Regions from separate parts of the Homo sapiens genome. Here region 1 is linked to region 2. The links come from fine-mapping of genetic effects on gene expression. A gene starts in region 2. The other region holds a variant in brackets. All regions are shown on one strand. Distances are from middle to middle. Region 1 holds the start of LOC105371501 (a long non-coding RNA gene). Region 2 holds the start of KIF1C (kinesin family member 1C).

Region 1 (9,918 bases), 33 kb after region 2:
AGGATTTGTGGGGTACAGAGGAGTTCTGCTTTAAGTCACCTAACTTACTTGAAAGGTCTCCCAAGCAGCCAGTTTCTCTTGATAGTGAATGGGTTGGGCAAGCATACTGCGCTTACCTGATTGTTTTCATCCTGGTTGTGTTACCTGCCTTCTGGCAGGCTACATCATTGTTCCCAGTCGTTATTTTATTTGTGTTAAGACTGTTTGTTGGCCAGGCGCAGTGGTTCACGCCTGTAATGCCAGCACTGGGAGGCCGAGGCAGGTGGATCACGAGGTCAGGAGATCGAGACCATCCTGGCTATCATGGTGAAACCCCATCTCTACTAAAAATAAAAATAAAAAAATTAGCCGGGCATGGTGGCGGGGGCCTGTAGTCCCAGCTACTCAGGAGGCTGAGGCAGGAGAATGGCATGAACCTGGGAGGCGGAGCTTGCAGTGAGCTGAGATTGCGCCACTGCACTCCAGCCTGGGCGACAGAGCGAGACTCCATTTCAAGAAAAATTAAAAAACTGTTTGTTGCCTGCTTGTTTTAATGTTCTGGCTTGAGGCAGCGAGCCCTTGACTATGCCACATTGCCAGGATTTTGCAGGTTAGATTGTACTACAGCACTGCCTTTGGCTTGCCAGACTCTGGAGTCCCCACATTTTCATCCTGTTCTCAGGAAAACACTTTGACCCACTTGAAGCTCTGAGCTACTGCTTCACAGCTTCCTGGGGTCAGTCTCCAGCCAAAACCATAGATATCCCAACTGCAGCCAAACCACGGCTCTGGGCGAAGGAACGATTAGGTTTACTCTAGGTTTCCACACCCTGATGCTCCTGCCTTTACTTTGACACCTCTGACTGCCAGGTTTTCACAGACCTGTTGACAGTGACTCAAGATCTGGAATGTAATGGATGGTTTGGCAACAGTGTTTGCTTGAGCAGTTTAAAATCTGGCCAGGGAGACTCAATGTGAGCAAGAAAATGATAGAATACCAAGTTTTCTGGAGGTCAGAGGGAGCTGAGTTGAGTGTTACCGAGAATGCTGTGGGGTTTGAGATGAGAAAAATAGCTTGCTAATTTAAAAGACGGATTATTTTTCCCTAAAGACCTTGACTTATGTAAATGTATATTATCCATAATTTTAAAAATCCACTTATGGCTGGGCACAGAAGCTCACACCTGTAATCCCAGCACTTTGGGAGGCTGAGGCAGGAGGATCAGTTGAGTCCAGGAGTTCGAGACCAGCCTGGGCAACATAGTGAAACCCTGTATCTACAAAACATAGAAAAACTAGTTGGGTGTGGTGGTGTGTACCTGTAGTTCCAGCTACTAGGGAGGTAGGAAGATCACCTGAGCCCATGGAGATTGAGGCTGTGGTGAGCTGTGAAGGCACCACAGCACTCTGGCCTGGGCAAGAGTGGGACTCTCTCAAAAAAAAAAAAAAAAAAAAATCCACATATCCAGCCTTCCAAGTCAGTCTTTAATAATGTGCACGGGCCAGGCACAGTGGCTCACACCCGTAATCCCAACACTTTGGAATATTAGGGTGGGAGCATCACTTGAGGCCAGGAATTTGAGACCAGCCTGGGCAACATAGTGAGACTGCCCCCCCCATCTCTACAAAAAATAAAAATCAAAAATAATACTGTGGGCAAACTTTACTTAGATTTTATTCAGAGTAGTGCCTGTTTATTTTTCATCTGTGCTACCTGTGCCGGCATTCCATATGCATTTGATTTAGTCTTTAAAGTACCCCGGTAAAATAGGTCTTTTGTCTGCATTTTTCAGATGGGAAGACTGAGGTTTTGTTTATTTATTTTTATTTATTTATTTTTTGAGACGGAGTCTCGCTCTGTTGCCTAGGCTGGAGTGCGATGGCACAATCTTGGCTCACTACAACCTCCGCTTCCTGGGTTCAAGCGATTCTCCTGCCTCAGCCTCCTGAGTAGCTAGGATTACAGGCGCCCACAACCGCACCCGGCTAATTTTTTGTATCTTTAGTAGAGACAGGGTTTCACTATGTTGTCCAAGCTGGTTTCGAATTCCTGACCTCAGGTGATCCACCCGCCTCTGCCTCCCAAAATGTTGGGATTACAGGCGTGAGCCACCACGCCCAGCCTATTTATTTATTTTTTTAGAATCAAGATCTTGCTATGTTGCCCAGGCTGAACTCGAACTCCTGGGCTCAAGCAATCCTGCCTCCCAAGCCAAGCAGCTGGTACTGCAAGCATGTGCCACCGTGCCTGGCTCCTGAAGACTGAGGTTGGTTTAGATTAATGAGTTGCCCAAATTCAGACAGTTCTTAAGTGGCAAAGTTAGGATTCCAACCCAGGTCAACATAACTAAAGCCCAAACCCCATCTCACCCCTCTAGGCCATCAAGTATTGGCTGGGTGCGGTGGTTTATGTCTGTAATCCCAGCACTTTGGGAGGCGGAGGCGGGAGGACTGTTTGAGCTCAGGAGTTTGAGACCAGCCTGGGCAACATAACAAGACCCTGTCTCTACAAAAATATATAAATTAGCCGGGTGTACTGGCTCACACCTGTAGCTACTTGGGAGGCTGAGGTGGGAGGATCGCTTGAGCCTGGGAGGTCAAGGCTGCGGTGACCTGTGATTGCACCACCAGGAGACCCTGTCTTAAAAATGTATATATAAAAATAAAAAGAACATCAGACATCACCATCACCTCGCTTAGAATCCATGGGGCCTTCTCCTCAAATTCAATCTTCCCAGGCATTTCATGAACTTGCGTCTAGTTTCTGTTCCCTCTCAAATTGCCCAGGCTGTCCTGTGAGTGACAGCAGCTATTTCGTGGGCCTCCTCTGGAATCATGAGAAGTCACCCAAACAATCTCAGTTTTCTAGCTCACTCCGTCTTGACATTTCTACACTGTCATCCTTGGTTTTCTTGGAAATTAATTTGCTTTTCTTCATTGTCTTTCTTTGGAGCTGCTTTCCTTTTGTTGGTTACTATTTTATTTTTAGCTTCTCACACCATACCGACATATGTTGGTTATTCTTTTAGACATGTTTTTTGTTGTTGTTGTCACCTGGAACTTTTGTATCTTGAATAAATTTGGGGATCAAATACATTTTTTCTCCACCAGTCTTATTTATACCTTTCTATATTCAGAGCTTCAAATTTGGTTTGGTTTGAAATTGTTCTCCCCCCAACCTTTTTTTTTTTTTTTTTGAGATGGAGTTTTGCTCTTGTCGCCCAGGCTAGAGTGCAGTGGCATGATCTCCGCTCGCTGCAACCTCCGCCTCCCGGGTTCAAGCGATTCTCCGGCCTCAGCTTCCCAAGTAGCTGGGATTACAGGCATGTGCCACCATGCCCGACCAATATTTGTATTTTTAGTAGAGATGGGGTTTTGGCATGTTAGCCAGGCTGGTCTTGAACTCCTGACCTCAAGTGATCCGCCCACCTCAGCCTCCCAAAGTATTGGGATTACAGGCATGAGCCACCATGCCTGGCCTTTTTTTTTTTTTTTTTTTTTTAACTTTTATTTATTTTCGAGAAGGAATCTCACTCTGTCGCCCAGGCTGGAGTACAGTGGTGCCATCACAGCTTATTACAGCCTCAACCTCCCAGGCTCAAGTGATCCTCCCACCTCAGCTTCCTGAGCAGCTGAGACTGCAGGTGCATGCCACCATGCCCAGCTAATTTTTTGTAGTTTTCTAGAGGCAGGGTTTTGTCATGCTGCCCAGGGTGATCTGGAACTTCGGAGCTCAAGCAATCCATCCATGTCTGCCTCCCAAAATGCTGGGATTATAGGCGTGAGCCAGTCACCTTTTCCCTTTTATTTTATTTTATTAATTTATTTTTATTTTATTTTTGAGACAGAGCCTTGCTCTGTCGCCAGGCTGGAGTGCAGTGGTGTAATCTCGGCTGACTGCAACCTCTGCCTCCCAGGTTCAAGCGATTCTTCTGCCTCAGCCTCCCGAGTAGCTGGGATTACAGGCGCGTGCCACCATGTCCGGCTAATTTTTGTATTTTTAGTAGAGGCGGGGTTTTACCGTGTTGACCAGGATGGTCTTGATCTCTTAACCTCGTGATCCACCTGCCTCGGCCTCCCAAAATGCTAGGATTACAGGCGTGAGCCACCGCACCTGGCCCTAAAAGTAGCCTTCTTTTCCCTTTTAAAGAGTTAGTGTCCATAGCTACTGGATGCCATTTTGGTTCAGGTGGACCGTGAATAGGTTTCACTCATCATGCCCAAAGGTTGCCACTCCTGACAAGTCACAGACAACGCTTGCACCATCATCTTCTTCCTTCAGAGTCTGTGGTCCCCTGGATGTCACTAAGGTCCTGCTTCCTGTACCAATAGGTTTTAAACACTACCCAAGGCAGGCTGGCTTTAAATATCCTACTTAATCTGGCTGACAGGCTCTCCCTGCACCTCTGGTACTCTGCTGCCTCATTAACAGCTCCGGCTACTCAGTTAAGGTTGGCATAGTGTCCATCTCTCCAGGTCAAAGGCCAGCAGCCTCTGCCTTGTACAGGAGTGTTCTCACTCCTGCTACCCACTTCTGTCTCTACTGAAAGGCAGGAGGAGACTGTGGCATCATTGGGATAGTACATTTCATCTAAAAGCCTGGTCACTAGATGTGAGTTGTAGAAACTGCTTCTCTCATCCCTCAACAATTTCACAGTTGTAGGAGCTGACATTAACCTGCCATGCCCCCAACAGCTAGGCGCGGTGGCTCATGCCTGTAATCCCAGAACTTTGGGAGGCCAAGGCAGGTGGATCACCTGAGGTAAGGAGTTCGAGACCAGCCTGGCCAACATGGAGAAACCCCCGTCTCTACTAAAAATATAAAAATTAGGCATAGTGGCACACACCTGTAATCCCAGCTACTCAGGAGGCTGAGGCAGAATTGCTTGAACCCAGGAGGCGGAGGTTGCAGTGAGCTGAGATTGCGCCACTGCACTCCAGCCTGGGTGACAGAGCAAGACTCAGTCTCAAAAAAAAAAAAAACAAAAAAAAAACAAATCCTGCTGTGTCCCCAACAGCCTCACCAATGAGAATTTCCACCTCAACTCCTCCTATTCCTTCCCCCACCTGCCCTCCCCACCTTAATCTCTGGAGAAGGAATATGTTTTGAGATAACTGGGAAAGTCTTGCCCTGTGGTACAATCCATTAAAGGTTCTTTACAAATGACCAGGGAAGCTGTTCTGTTTTTTTGTTTTTGTTTTGTTTTGTGTTTTGTTTCTTAAAGACAAGGTCTTGCTCTGTCACCCAGGGTGGAGTGCAGTGGTGGGTCTATAGTTCACTGAGGCCTCAAACTCCTAGGCTCAAGGGATTCTCCTGCCTCACCCTCCCCAGTAGCTGGAACTACAGGTGTGCGTCACCATGCCTGACTCTGGCTGTGTTTTGTTTTGTTTTGTTTTTGTAGAGACAGTGATCTTGCTATGCTGCCCAGGCTGGTCTCAACCTTATGGGCTCAAGTGATCCTCCCACCTCAGCCTCCCAAAGTGCTAGGATTACCTGCGTGAGCTATAGCGCCCTGCCTGTTCTGGGCTTCTTGCAGAGCCTCTTCAGCTGCAGAGAAGCAGCTCTCCTTTCTCCAAGTCCAGAGCCAACAGGTGAGGGCTGCAGTCAGAATCTCTGGAGCACACAGACCTGGGCTCCAGCCGTCTCACTAATTAGCTGTGGTACTCTGGGTAAGTCACCTTCTCTGAGTTTCAATTTCCTTTTCTGCAAAACAGGACGAATAATGAAGCTGTTGGGAAGATTTACTGATAATACATGTAAAGGGTCTAGCACATTTTAGGAGCTCAAGGTTGGTGCCTTCCCTTTTTCTTTACTCTGAAC[C/T]GGATATGAGGCCTTGAGAAAGAAGAGAGGCGCTTGCAAAACGAGGTGAGGTCTCAGGCACAGTGGCTCACGCCTGTAATCCCAGCACTTTAGGAGACCGAGGCGGGCGGATCATGAGGTCAGGAGTTCGAGACCAGCCTGGCCAACATGGTGAAAGCCCGTCTCTACTAAAAATACAAAAATTAGACGGGCATGGTGGTGGGCACCTGTAATCCCGGCTACTTGGGAGGTTGAGGGAGGAGAATCGCTTGAACCCAGGAGGTGGAGGTTGCAGTGAGCCGAGACTGCACCATTGCACTCCAGCCTGGGCAATAGAGCGAGACTCCGTCTCAAGCAAGCAAGCAAGCAAACAAACAAAATAAAAAACGAGGTCAAGTTTCAAAAGATGTCACCCCCAACCTGGCAAAACTTCTCCTCAAGCCCTGTCGTTCCACTCTTGTCCGCCAGGAGGAGAAAAGGTTCCCTCGAAGGACGTCTTTGCTTGCGCGTTCACGGAGCCTTGAGAACGAGTGGCCGAGGGGACCCCTGCGGCCCTGCGCGCCTGTGAGTCTCCCGGGCGGGCGGGCGGTGGGGGTGCGAGGCCGGGGGGTGGGTGCGAGGCGTGGGGGAGGTGCGAGGCGGGCGGGGCGGGGGGCGCGAGGCGGGAGGGCGCACGCGCAGAAGGCTGGCTGGGGTGACGCGGCGCCGGGCTTGGGCTTCTGTATTCCGCGTGTCTGGAGGAAGGTCCGGAGGTGGGCGGGAGCCCTGCGGGGATTTCCTCTTCCCCCAGGACTAGCTGTCATCTTCGTTTTTCAGAAGGGAGGACCTGACTCCTTTCAGAATTAGCATTTCTTCCCCTTCGTGGGTGCTCTTGAGTTCCAAAGAAAAGGAAGAGAAGCCTTCATTGAGCAGCTTCTTCTGCCTTAGGGACTGTGCTAGGGGGTAGATCGACCTTAGGGGAAACAATCCCCGCTTATTAGAGGAGGTTTTGGATCAGGGTTTGCTTTATTTGAAATTTAACAAATACAGAAAAGCAGAAGGAAGAAAATTGAAGTAATCCATGTTTCCACTGGGCGCGGCGGCTCACGCCTATAATCCCAGCACTTTGGGAGGCCAAGGCGGGCGGATCACGAGGTCAGGAGTTCGAGACCAGCCTGACCAACATGGTGAAACCCCCCGTCTCTACTAAAATTACAAAATTAGCCGGTCGTGGTGGCACACGCCTGTAATCCCAGCTACTCAGGAGGCTGAGGCAGGAGAATCGCTTGAACCCGGGAGGCAGAGGTTGCAGTGAGCCGAGATTGCACCACTGCACTCCAGCCTGAGCAACAGAGTGAGACTCCGTTGTCTTTAAAGGCCAATCCCATAGCAAATGACAGAGACTCACTTGAGTAAGAAAGGTTTTTGACAAGAAAACCCACAGAAGAAGAGATAAGCTGTGGATATAAGAAAGGCACTACAATCTGTATTTAAATCTAATTGCACACTAGATAATATATGTATGAAAAATTATTTAATCCAGTTTCCTGATTTCATTATATATTTCTTATAAGGTTTTCATTAGGCTTTTGTTTTTGTTTTTGGTTTTAAATAAAAACACTTTATTGCACAAATCCCACAAAGGTCTCAGGCCCTGGGTCCAAGCCCACAGCCCCAACCTGTCCCCTGGCTCTGGGCCTGGTCTTTGGTGCCCACCCTGGCCTCACATGCCAACGTCTTCTGTGGAGTGTGCAGGTGTCCATGAGCGTTCCTGTGTTGGGGGAAGCCTGCCTGGGCCACAAGTAGTCAGGCACTGTGGCAGCCTCACGATGAAGACAGGTGGGGTGGAGTTGGGTCCCCACCTGCCCAGGCTCAGGGGCCACAGGGGTCTACACAGTCCTTTCTGCTTTGAAACACGTGGTAGATGCTGGTGGGAGGGAACATGGCACCGGCACCAAGCAGGGAGCCCACTTGGATGGCCACACCAGCTGCCAGCAATGCCGGCCGACCCCCACCATGCAGCAGGGAGCTTGCAGCCACCTTCACATATGAGAACACACACAGACACAGCACCCACGACAGCACCTGCAAGGGAGGACACAGCAGCAGGCTGAGCATGACATGCACTTGCTCCAGGGGACACCCTCCTCCCCACTTCATGTCTCCACTTGCTCACCACAAGGACCACCCCTGCAGTGGTGCCCACCAGGGGTGGGCAGGGGCTCAGGATTGCCAGTGCCATCAGGTAGGCCCCAAAGAGCATGCCCAGCAGAGAAAGACCAACCAGCCCTGCCAGGGACCTGTTGGGGATGAGCAGAGACTCAGGGCTGGCTGTTCTGGGACCTGGACCCCAACCTTAAGTTCCACCCACCAAGCCTGGGGACCCTTTTGCACCTGCACAGCACGCCCATGGCCAGGAAGCAGGCAAGGGGGTTGGCGGCACTGCCCAGCACCACAGCCAGGTGGTAGGCCAGGCGCCCATAGGGCAAACAGGAAAAGCTCTGCACAGAAGGCAGCACGCCATTGGTCACGGCACTGGTGAAGGCCATCAGGCCCAGCAGGAAGGCACCATGGGCTGAGAACAGCTGATGGGCCTCAGGGTCTGGGCCAGGGATGGTGCCTGCTGCCTGGCTCGGTGGCTCCTGCAATGGCAAAGCCTCTTCTTCCTCCTTCTCTTCCTCCTCTGCTCCTGGGGATCCCAGTTGAAGTTCAGGCCCTGAGCCCCCTGTGGTTACAGAGGGTAGTGATGGCAACAGCAACAGGAGACCCCGGAAGGCGGCAGCTGAAGTGACCAGAAGGGCAGTCAGTGCCCAGAAGAAGGTGCTGGCAGGAAAACGCTCAGGGAAGTCGAGGGGAGGCCCAGAGGTGCCATTGGTGGGCGCTGGTGGGCACTCGAGGCGGCCCACACCTTGCACTAGGGCCAGCACACAGGGGAGTAGGGCACTGAGACCCTGACCCAGGAAGAAAGACCGTAAGAAAGGAGGTGGCAGGTGGCTCAGGAAGGGCAGGAAAGTGACATTAGAGGTACAACAGGCCATTGCCAACACCAAGGCCAGAGTTAGGAAGGCCACAGAGTGGAGCTGCCCTGCCACTGGGGCCACGTGGTGCCACAGAGGGGCCAGCAGGGCTGTGCCCACTACACTCAGCACCTGTACCACCTGGATGGGGACCTGCTCGCCCTTGCCCGGGGCCAGCTGCCTCCACAGGGTCACCACCAGCAGACCCAGGTTTCCCAGCGCCACAACCACAGAGAGGTATGAGGGGAGGCTCCAACCTGCAGGGAAGGAATGATGCCATGTCAGGAGCACAGTGGCTAAGGGACAAAGAGCTGCCACAGGCCACCTTTCTGGGCATACCTGCCCCACGCTTCCCTGTACCTCCCTCCCACTCACCCTCTGGAAGGTCTTTTACCACCACAGGCAGCTCCACCCAGATCCCGTTCACAGCAGCCCAGGAGCCCATGCCAAAAAGGGCCACCAGCAGGTGGGTCAGCACCAGACGGCCCAGCGTGGGTGCTGCCATTCAGCCCAAAGCTGGACCCTCCAGGACAGGGCAAAGGTCACAGGCAGGTCCTTCCCTAGGTAGGTCCAAAGATGCTTTGGTTCTTCTGGAAACTGAAGACCTTCTAGCTGGAGGGAAACAGACAGGCTGGCAGGTAATAGGCTGGTGGGACAGAACCGGAGTCAGAAGACAAGTCGGTCAGACTGCTAAGACCAGGGCAACTGGAGGGAGAGGTGGCCGGGGGCGGGCGGGGAAGGTGGGGAGCCAGGACTTACCACGGGGCACCGGCTGTGCGTTTGGGTACAGCGACCCAGCAGTGCCGGCAGGCAGACAGGCAGAAAGCTGGCCCGAGGTGCAGCTGCCCCAGAGGAGCAAAGAGGGAGCTGATTTTCCTACCCACAGAGGACCCGGGGTCCAAGTTGTCAAAACAGCTCAGCACTGGCCGGGTGCGGTGGCTCACACCTGTAATCCCAGCACTTTGGGAAGCTGAGGAAGGCAGATCGCCTGAGGTCAGGAGATTGAGACCATCCTGGCCAACATGGTGAAAACCCGTCTCTACTAAAAATACAAAAATTAGCTGGTCGTGGTGGTGGGTGCCAGTAATCCCAGCTACTCAGGAGGCTGAGGCAGGAGATTCACTTGAACCCGGAAGGTGGAGG
Region 2 (8,000 bases):
ATGGGGTTTCTCCATGTTGGTCAGGCTGGTCTCAAACTCCCAACCTCAGGTGATCTGCCCACCTCAGCCTTCCAAAGTGCTGAGATTATGGCATGAGCCATTGGGCCCGGCCTTTTTTTTTGAGACGGAGTCTCGCTTTGTCACTCAGGCTGGAGTGCAGTGGTGTGATCTCGGCTCATTGCAAGGTCCGCCTCCTGGGTTCACGCCATTCTCCTGCCTCAGCCTCCCGAGTAGCTGGGACTACAGGCGCCCGCCACCACACCCGGCTAATTTTTTTGTATTTTTAGTAGACACGAGTTTCACTTTGTTAGCCAGGATGGTCTTGATCTCCTGACCTCGTGATCCACCCACCTCGGCCTCCCAAAGTGCTGGGATTACAGGTGTGAGCCACCGTGCCTGGCCTTTTTTTTTTTTTTTTTTTTTTGAGATGGAGTCTTGTTCTGTCGCCCAGGCTGGAGTGCAGTGGCACAATCTTGGCTCACTGCAACCCCTGCCTCCTGGGTTCAAGCAATTCTCATGCCTCAGCCTCCCAAGTAGCTGGGATTACAGGCGAGCACCACCATGCCTGGCTAATTTTTGTATTTCTAGTAGAGATGGGGTTTTGTCATGTTGGCCAGGCTGGTCTCGAACTCCTGATCTCAGGTGATCCGCCTGCCTCGGCCTCCCAAAGTGCTGGGATTACAGGAGTGAGCCACCACACCTGGCCCACTGTTTTATGTTTTAAATAGTACCCATCATTAGCTGAAATTGTATTTGTTTGCACATTCTGTGTTCCCCTCTCTAGAATGTAAGCTCTACAAGAGCAGGACCCCTATCCTGCTAGTTGCTGAATCCCCAGTGCCTAATACAGTCCCTGGAACATTGTAGTGTTCAAACTATTTGTTGAATAAATTAATGAATCATCAATCCCCTGAGACCAGGCATTGCATTTCCCGTTCTTTATTTCCTAATCCTCTTAGGGAAGGACCCAGGCATGCAATATCCCCTCCATCCCATCCCCATGCTCCCCACCCAGTGGGAGGACTCACTTGGCAAAGGGGATGAGGTTGACTCCATCATCCTGCACCTGCATGACTGGACGGGGCTGGGTAGTTAGTCTCCTTTTTGGTGCTGGGAGGATAATGGAAAAGAAGTCATTCATTCGGGCTGGATGTGGTGGCTCACGCCTGTAATCCCAGTACTTTTGGAGGCCAAGGCGGGCGGATCATGAGGTCAGGAGTTCAAGACCAGCCTGGCCAATATAGTGAAACCCCATCTCTGCTAAAAATACAAACATTAGTCGGGTGTGGTGGCGCGCGCCTATAGTCCCAGCTACCCAGAAAGCTGAGGCAGAAGAATCGCTTGAACCTGGGAGGCGGAGGTTGCAGTGAGCCGAGATCGCGCCACTGCACTCCAGCCTGGGGGACAGAGCAAGACTCTGTCTCAAAAAAAAAAAAAAAAAAAAAAAAGGCATTCATTCATATAATGTCTGTAGGGATGAGGCCAGTAGCAGATCTAGAGAATGGAAAAAGAATGTATGGATGCTGAAAAAAGAGAGAGCTTAAAAGGTATTTGTAGCGGCTGGGCGCAGTGGCTTATGCCTGTAATCCCAGCCCTTTGGGAGGCCGAGGCAGGCAGATCACCTGAGGTTGGGAGTTCGAGACCAGTCTGACCAACATGGAGAAACCCCGTCTCTACTAAAAATACAAAATTAGCTGGGCATGGTGGCGCATGCCTGTAATCCCAGCTACTCCGGAGGCTGAGGCAGAAGAATCACTTGAACCAGGGAGTAGGAAGTTGCAGTGAGCTGAAATTGCACCACTGCACTCCAGACTGGCAACAGAGCAAGACTCTGTCTCAAAAAAAAAAAAAAGGTATTTGTAGTGCTGGACTGTTAATTGAACATTTAGGTTGAAGATAGTGAGCACAGGAAAAGTGGATGTGGTAAAAAGATAAAGGAGAAAGCAAATCTTCTGAAGCTAAATGTGCAGAATAAGTGAAATTTACAGATGGCAGTTAAGCGACAACTGGCAATATGGGACAATGAAATTGAAAAATGATGACAGTGGAGACTGGGTGGGGTGGAGGCATTTGGGGGTAAGAGAAGTGACAGAATTGAGGGTTCTCAATGAATCAACTATGAGTGGTTAGTGAAAGTTAATTGTGTGGGCCGGGTGCAGTGGCTCACACCTGTAATCCCAGCACTTTGCGGGGCTGGGGCAAGAGAATTGCCTGAGCTCAGGAGTTGGAGACCAGCCTGGGCAATACAGAGAGACGTCATCTCTATTTAAAAAAAAAAAGTTGGCTGGGTGTGGTGGCTCACGCCTGTAATCCCAGCACTTTGGGAGGCTGAGGCGGGTGGATCACCTGAGGTCGGGAGTTCGAGACCAGTCTGACCAACATGGAGAAACCCTGTCTCTACTAAAAAATACAAAAATTAGCCGGGCATGGTGGCACATGCCTGTAATCCCAGCTACTCAGGAGGCTGAGGCAGGAGAATTGCTTGAACCAGGGAGGCAGAGGTTGCGGTGAGTTGAGATCGCGCCATTGCACTCCAGTCTGTGCAACAAGAGTGAAACTCTGTCTCTAACAAAATAAAAAAAGAAATTAAAAAAAGTTAAGTGTGGACATAATGGTCAACTGGTGACAGGGAAGGAGGGGGCAGTTGGGAATGCCTGTGGATAGGGAGGTCAGTTGCATATAGGGACAGCCAAAGATGACCTGAAGGCCAGTTGGGGTGGGGAGAAAGGGCAGTTAAGGCTGGGCACACTGGCTCACGCCTGTAATCCCAGCAATTTGGGAGGCGGAAGTGGGTGGATTGCTCGAGCCCAGGAGTTTGAGACCAGCCTGGGCAACATGGCGAAACCCCCTCTTTACCAAAATACGAAAAAGTTTAGCCAGGTGTGGTGGTGTGCGCTTGTACCCGGAAGGCTGAGGTGGGAGTGTCATCTGAGCCCGGGAGGTCAAGGCTGCAGTGAGGTAAGATCGCACCACTGCACTGCACTCCAGCCTAGGCGTCAGAGTGAGACCCTGTTTCTAAGAAGAAAAAAAAAAAAGCCAGGCGCGGTGGCTCAAGACTGTAATCCCAGCACTTTGGGAGGCTGAGGTGGGCGGATCACTTGAGGTCAGGAGTTCGAGACCAGCCTGGCCAACACAGCGAAACCCAGTCTCTACTAAAAATACAAAAATTAGCCGGGTGTGGTGGCAGGCATCTGTAATCCCAGCTATTCGGGAGGCTGAGGCAGGAGAATCGCTTGAACCCAGGAGGCGGAGGTTGCCGTGAGCCGAGGTCAGCCTGGGCAACAGAGCAAGACTCCGTCTCAAAAAAAAAAAAAAAAAAAAAAAAAGAATACTAGATAAGTTAGGAGAGAGTGCACATAGGCTCCCGAAGGACAGAAGCAGCCAGCTGGAACTGTAGAGGTGAACTAGTATTTATCCAAGGGAACTAGGGATGGGCTGGGAAAGCAGGTGAGGTCAAAAGCGGAGAGAAGTATACCGTGCGGAAGCGGCAGATGGGGCTAGTTGGAGTTGGGCTGAAAGGGCCTAAAGTGGGGTCTAAAGGGGATGTCCTGACTCGGAGGGGGGTCAGCAGAACGCGAGGGAGCAGCGGGAGCTGCGGGGCATTCGGGCCTCAGATAGTTGGGTCCAAGCGGGTGACCTAGATCCAAGGGCAGGATGGAGCTGAAGGAAGCCAGGAAGGATCCTCCACAGTTGACTTCGGGGTAGCCACGGCCTGCGCCTGCGAGGGTGGATGAGGACCCGAGGGTCCGGCTGGGGCTGAGGGGCTGCCTGGAGCCCCGCTGGAGGGAAGCGCCGGGCCGGAGGGCGCGGCCTGCGCCTGAAAGGGCGACGGGGACCCTCGACAGGTGGACCGGGCGTGGCCGGACCTTCCGGGCAGCCCCGCCCGAGGGCACGACTGGGGGCTGCTTCCCTCGAGAGGGGCCCTGAGGTGGTGGGCCCAGGCTGAAGGGCAGGCTGGGGCCTGAGGGACGCCCCGGGTCTGAGAGGGCAGCTCCGGCCTTAGGCGGCACCCGGGCCTGAAGGGGTTGTTTGGGCCTCAGGCGGCGTCCAGGGCGGCCGAACTTGAGGGCCAGGCGGGGACAGAGCGCCCGAGTAGCCGCGCCACGGCCGGCCGCATTTGGCCCCAGCACCTGAAGCAGCTGCGCGGCGAATTCTAGAACTCGGCGGGGCGGGGAGGAGAGAGACGGCGATTCGAGCCGCGGGAGGAGCCGGCGGGCGGTGCTCGTCTGAGGGCGGGGCCTGAGCGGAGCCACCTTCTGGGCGGGCCTCGGCAGGAGGCTCCGCCCCCTGGACGCGCCTCCAACGGCGGCGACGGGAACTGGGCCGGGGCCTGGGTGCCCCCGCGGGTCAGCCCCCGACGTTTCCCTGTTCTTCAGGCGTCTGCAACCCTCCTGGGTTGCGGCGTCTGCTCGCCCTTCTGCGTCCGCAGCTCGGTCCCCACGTTCCCGCTCGCTGGGCCCCACAGGCCAGGAGCGTTGCCCCTTTAACAAGAGTAGCCCGGGTCGCTCCCGGCTCCTTCCCGGGACCGCGCGTACCCGCCCCTCCGCGCGCGCTCGCGCGTCCCCCGCCCCTCGCTCCCGCCCCAGCTCGCGCTGCCCGGGCGGGCGCCGGCCGCTGGCGCCGCTACTGCTGCCGCCCCCGGGGCGCGAGTCCGCCGCCCGCCGCCCGGGCACCCGGCGAGGGGCGGGGGCAGCTCCGAACCGGCCCCAGATCCTTCCCGCTTCCGCCTCACGCTTCCCGGAAAGCTTGTCCCTCTCCGCCGAGCTGCTCCGGGAGCCCCGCCGCGCCGAGGTGAGGGCTGGGGAAGGGGGAGGGAAGGGACGCCCGCGGAGGAATGTGCCGGGTTGGGGGGCGGGGAGCCGGGGTCCGGCGGCGCGATCTAGGCTCAAGAGTCGGGATCATGTGCTGTTTGTTCCGCGGAGGCGCAGAGAGGTGCCAGGCCCGGGCGGCCGCCGGCTGGCTGGACAGGAGGACGGGTCCGCATGGCCGCCCTGAGAGGCCGGGCGGGGACCTGTGTGAGAACCGCCGGGTGGGCAAGGTGCAGGTGGCCCAAGACCCCCTTTCGGGCCGGTCGGCCCCACCCCAGCCGCCCAGTATCCTCCTTGTACCCCACGGCTCCTTCACAGCTGCACCGGCCGACCCCTGTCCCTACCTCTATTCCCTTACCCCGCTGGCCCCCAGCCGTGCCACCCCATCCCTGTCCCATTAGCTGCAGCAACGGCGTCACCATCGCTTGTCCCCACCAGTGTCCTTCCCTCCCCTGGTCAGGGTCTAGGGGGTCAGGGCTGTTCTTCCTGAGCCAGCTTCTGTGATTCCAGCTACTCCCTTCCTGTCCTGGGACAGACCAGCCCCTCACCCTCCCATGCTCTGCCCAGGAAGACTGGTGAGGGGAGGCCCAGCGTGACAGGAGTTTGGGGTCCACTGGGGCCACAGGAGGGGGCTCCGCATCCCTTATCCTTCGTGGTCCTCCTCCCTGTTGTCCGTGGGCGTGGGCTGCTCAGCCTCTCCTCCCAGGGTGTGGGCACCCGATCACCCACATTCCTGGGCTCCAGCCTGGCACCTTCCCCAGGGCAGTGGACGCCATAGCACTAGCCCCAGGTTGGGGCTGGCACCAGCCAGCCGGCTTCCTTTTCTTTCTCCCTTTTAGGGAGGCCCCAGGGACCCTCTACCCTCAAACACAGGTATTTCTGGGCGCCCCAAGGGTGGAGCCCTGAGGGTTGGTCTGATGGCTACAGGATGACCCCACCCTCCCCTGCTCATTGTCCCGGATCCTGAGGAGGAAGTGCTGGGGGCTGGGCAAGGGGCTTAGAGCCCACACAGCTGGCCCTGTGGATCCCAGTCCTGGGCCCTACCTACAGTCCTTGGACTTTGCCCATCTGCACTACTGGCCTGGTGCATGGAGGTTGTGGGCCTCAGGTGGAAACTAGATTCTCCCTTGCCGACACTGTGGGGGAATTTGAGGACAGGTTTTGCATTTGCAGTTTCCTCTCTGGTCTCTCTTCTGGGCTCCCAGTTTGTGCTTTGGCGCCGGAGTTCCCCACCCTGTCTCTTTAACACCGTGTGTTTGCTGTGCTGTGTCTCTTCCTCCTTTCCTCTCCCATTCTTTCCTTCATAGCATGACCTCAGGCTTGCCTTTTGTCTTATTTCTCTAATTTTCTTGGTGTCTGTGACTCTCTGCCCCTCCTCTCTCTCTTCCCACCCCCCTCACGTCTCTGCCCATGTGCCCCTCTCTCTGAATTGCCCTCTGTCCAGCCTCTTTCTCTCTCTGTCCTCTATCTGAACGTTCAGTACATTTGCGAGTGACAAGGAATAAAAATATCACCGTCCCTGCCCTTGGATTCACATTGCATTCAGCCACTCTAGAGGGGCAGCTGTCCGTACTTTTCCTGCTATTCCCCCCGTAACCTTGGCCCTCCAACCTGGGAACCCCAGACGGGTCTCTGGAACCACAGGTGCCTTCTAACAACTCTTCCCCCGCAATCAGGGTATCTCCCAGAGCCCCAGCTGGTGTGGCCAGGCCCCAGGAGTAGGATGGGGCTCCCCCTACGAGGGCCGGTGGCAGCCAGAACTGATACAGCCCCCCTGGTCTGGGGCCAGGACGCCAGGTAACTGGGGGAGACCGCCCAGGTTCCTGCAAGCTGGAATATGGCTGGGGAGAGAGGCAGAAATACCTTTGGGAGTCTCTCAAGACAGTGACATTTGGGAGGAAAGCCAAGGGAATAAGAGCTGGGTCCTTGAGAGGCTGGGTGGCTCTGGGGGAGATGTGAAGAGACTGGTTCCGGGAAGAAGCTGGGAGGCAATGTCTGGGTCCCTGCAGTGGTTCTGACCCCACCACTCCTTTCTCTGTCCTCCAGCTGAGGAGGGCAGGAGTGTCTGGAGCTATGGCTGGTGCCTCGGTGAAAGTGGCAGTGAGGGTTCGGCCCTTTAACGCCCGTGAGACCAGCCAGGATGCCAAGTGTGTGGTCAGCATGCAGGGCAACACCACCTGTGAGTGAGTCCCCGGGGCCTGGCTGGGCACAGGCAGGGAAGGCCGGGCCCACCACACAGGCCAGTCCCGCTGGGCCAAACTAAGAGGAGGGTAATGCTGGGCACAGAGCAGGTGCTAGTCGTAAGGGCGGGGGCTGGGGCAGGCTGGCCTTTCCCGTGTTCCCAGTCCCTGGGAGGGGGAATGTTGGCCTGGAGCCCTCCATTGCCCAATCCAGGGAGGCAGCTCAGTGGGGGCGGGTCCTAGGAAGCCAAAATTAGCTTTGGTGGCTGGAGGGGGTGGGGAATGTTAAAGGGGAGAGAAGAGTCAGGACAGTGGTGAGGAGTGGGATGCTTGGATTCCAGGGGCTGGTTGGGGTATGGGCAGGGACTGGGAATACCTGACCTTGACTTTCCTTCCTTTACCCTCTCCTGCCCCTCAGCCATCATCAATCCTAAACAGAGCAAGGATGCCCCCAAAAGCTTCACCTTTGACTACTCCTACTGGTCACACACTTCGGTGGGTTGTTGGGCTGGGGGAAGAGCAAGGCAGTGAGAGACAGAGGATTTAGGTCCTGGGGAGGGGACATGTTAAGAAATAGGACCCCCAGGGGATTAGTCAGGGTGAATTGGGAGGATGATCCTGGGTGGGGGTGGTAGGACCCTTAGGCTGTGATTGAGGCCTCGACAGGAAGGCGGAATCCCTTGGGGTAATTAGGACTAGCAGGGGCTGGATAGGATCCTTGGGGTGGTAAGGACAATGATGAGGGTGGGAGGGCACACAGGACATTTGGGGAATCGTCAGTGATGGAAGCAAGACTCTTGGGACAGAGACACAAAGGATAAAGACATCCAGGGTTACTCTGTTTTTCTCTGCCCCCACTTTCTCCTAGACGGAGGACCCCCAGTTTGCATCTCAGCAGCAAGTGTATCGGGACATTGGAGAAGAGATGCTGCTCCACGCCTTTGAAGGCTACAACGTGTGCATCTTTGCCTATGGGCAGACCGGGGCTGGGAAATCCTATACCATGATGGGG

The links. PIP is the estimated chance that this variant, and not a neighbour inherited with it, causes the effect.
Region 1: its variant is fine-mapped to the expression of KIF1C in whole blood (TOPMed, PIP 0.91).

Annotation. Positions count from the first base shown.
Region 1 is chr17:5,025,327-5,035,244 of GRCh38, forward strand. It overlaps KIF1C (kinesin family member 1C), which reads left to right. Exons shown (of 23, transcript NM_006612.6): 23 at 1-3,075. It overlaps SLC52A1 (solute carrier family 52 member 1), which reads right to left. Exons shown (of 5, transcript NM_017986.4): 1 at 9,535-9,918; 2 at 9,151-9,387; 3 at 8,153-9,032; 4 at 7,935-8,058; 5 at 7,276-7,843. The coding sequence starts at 9,280. The coding sequence ends at 7,631. It overlaps LOC105371501 (a long non-coding RNA gene), which reads left to right and starts at 5,480. Exons shown (of 4, transcript XR_002958101.2): 1 at 5,480-5,571; 2 at 5,695-5,845; 3 at 6,248-6,343. RefSeq lists a silencer at 6,342-6,431 and an enhancer at 6,452-6,591. The variant C/T (reference allele first, on the strand shown) is at 5,801.
Region 2 is chr17:4,993,366-5,001,365 of GRCh38, forward strand. KIF1C (kinesin family member 1C) reads left to right here and starts at 4,585. Exons shown (of 23, transcript NM_006612.6): 1 at 4,585-4,791; 2 at 6,485-6,605; 3 at 6,855-6,987; 4 at 7,407-7,483; 5 at 7,857-8,000. The coding sequence starts at 6,882. It overlaps INCA1 (inhibitor of CDK, cyclin A1 interacting protein 1), which reads right to left and starts at 4,157. Exons shown (of 7, transcript NM_001394789.1): 1 at 4,131-4,157; 2 at 1,029-1,110. The coding sequence starts at 1,072. RefSeq lists silencers at 3,898-3,987, 4,028-4,897, 4,948-5,047 and enhancers at 6,290-6,901, 6,902-7,512.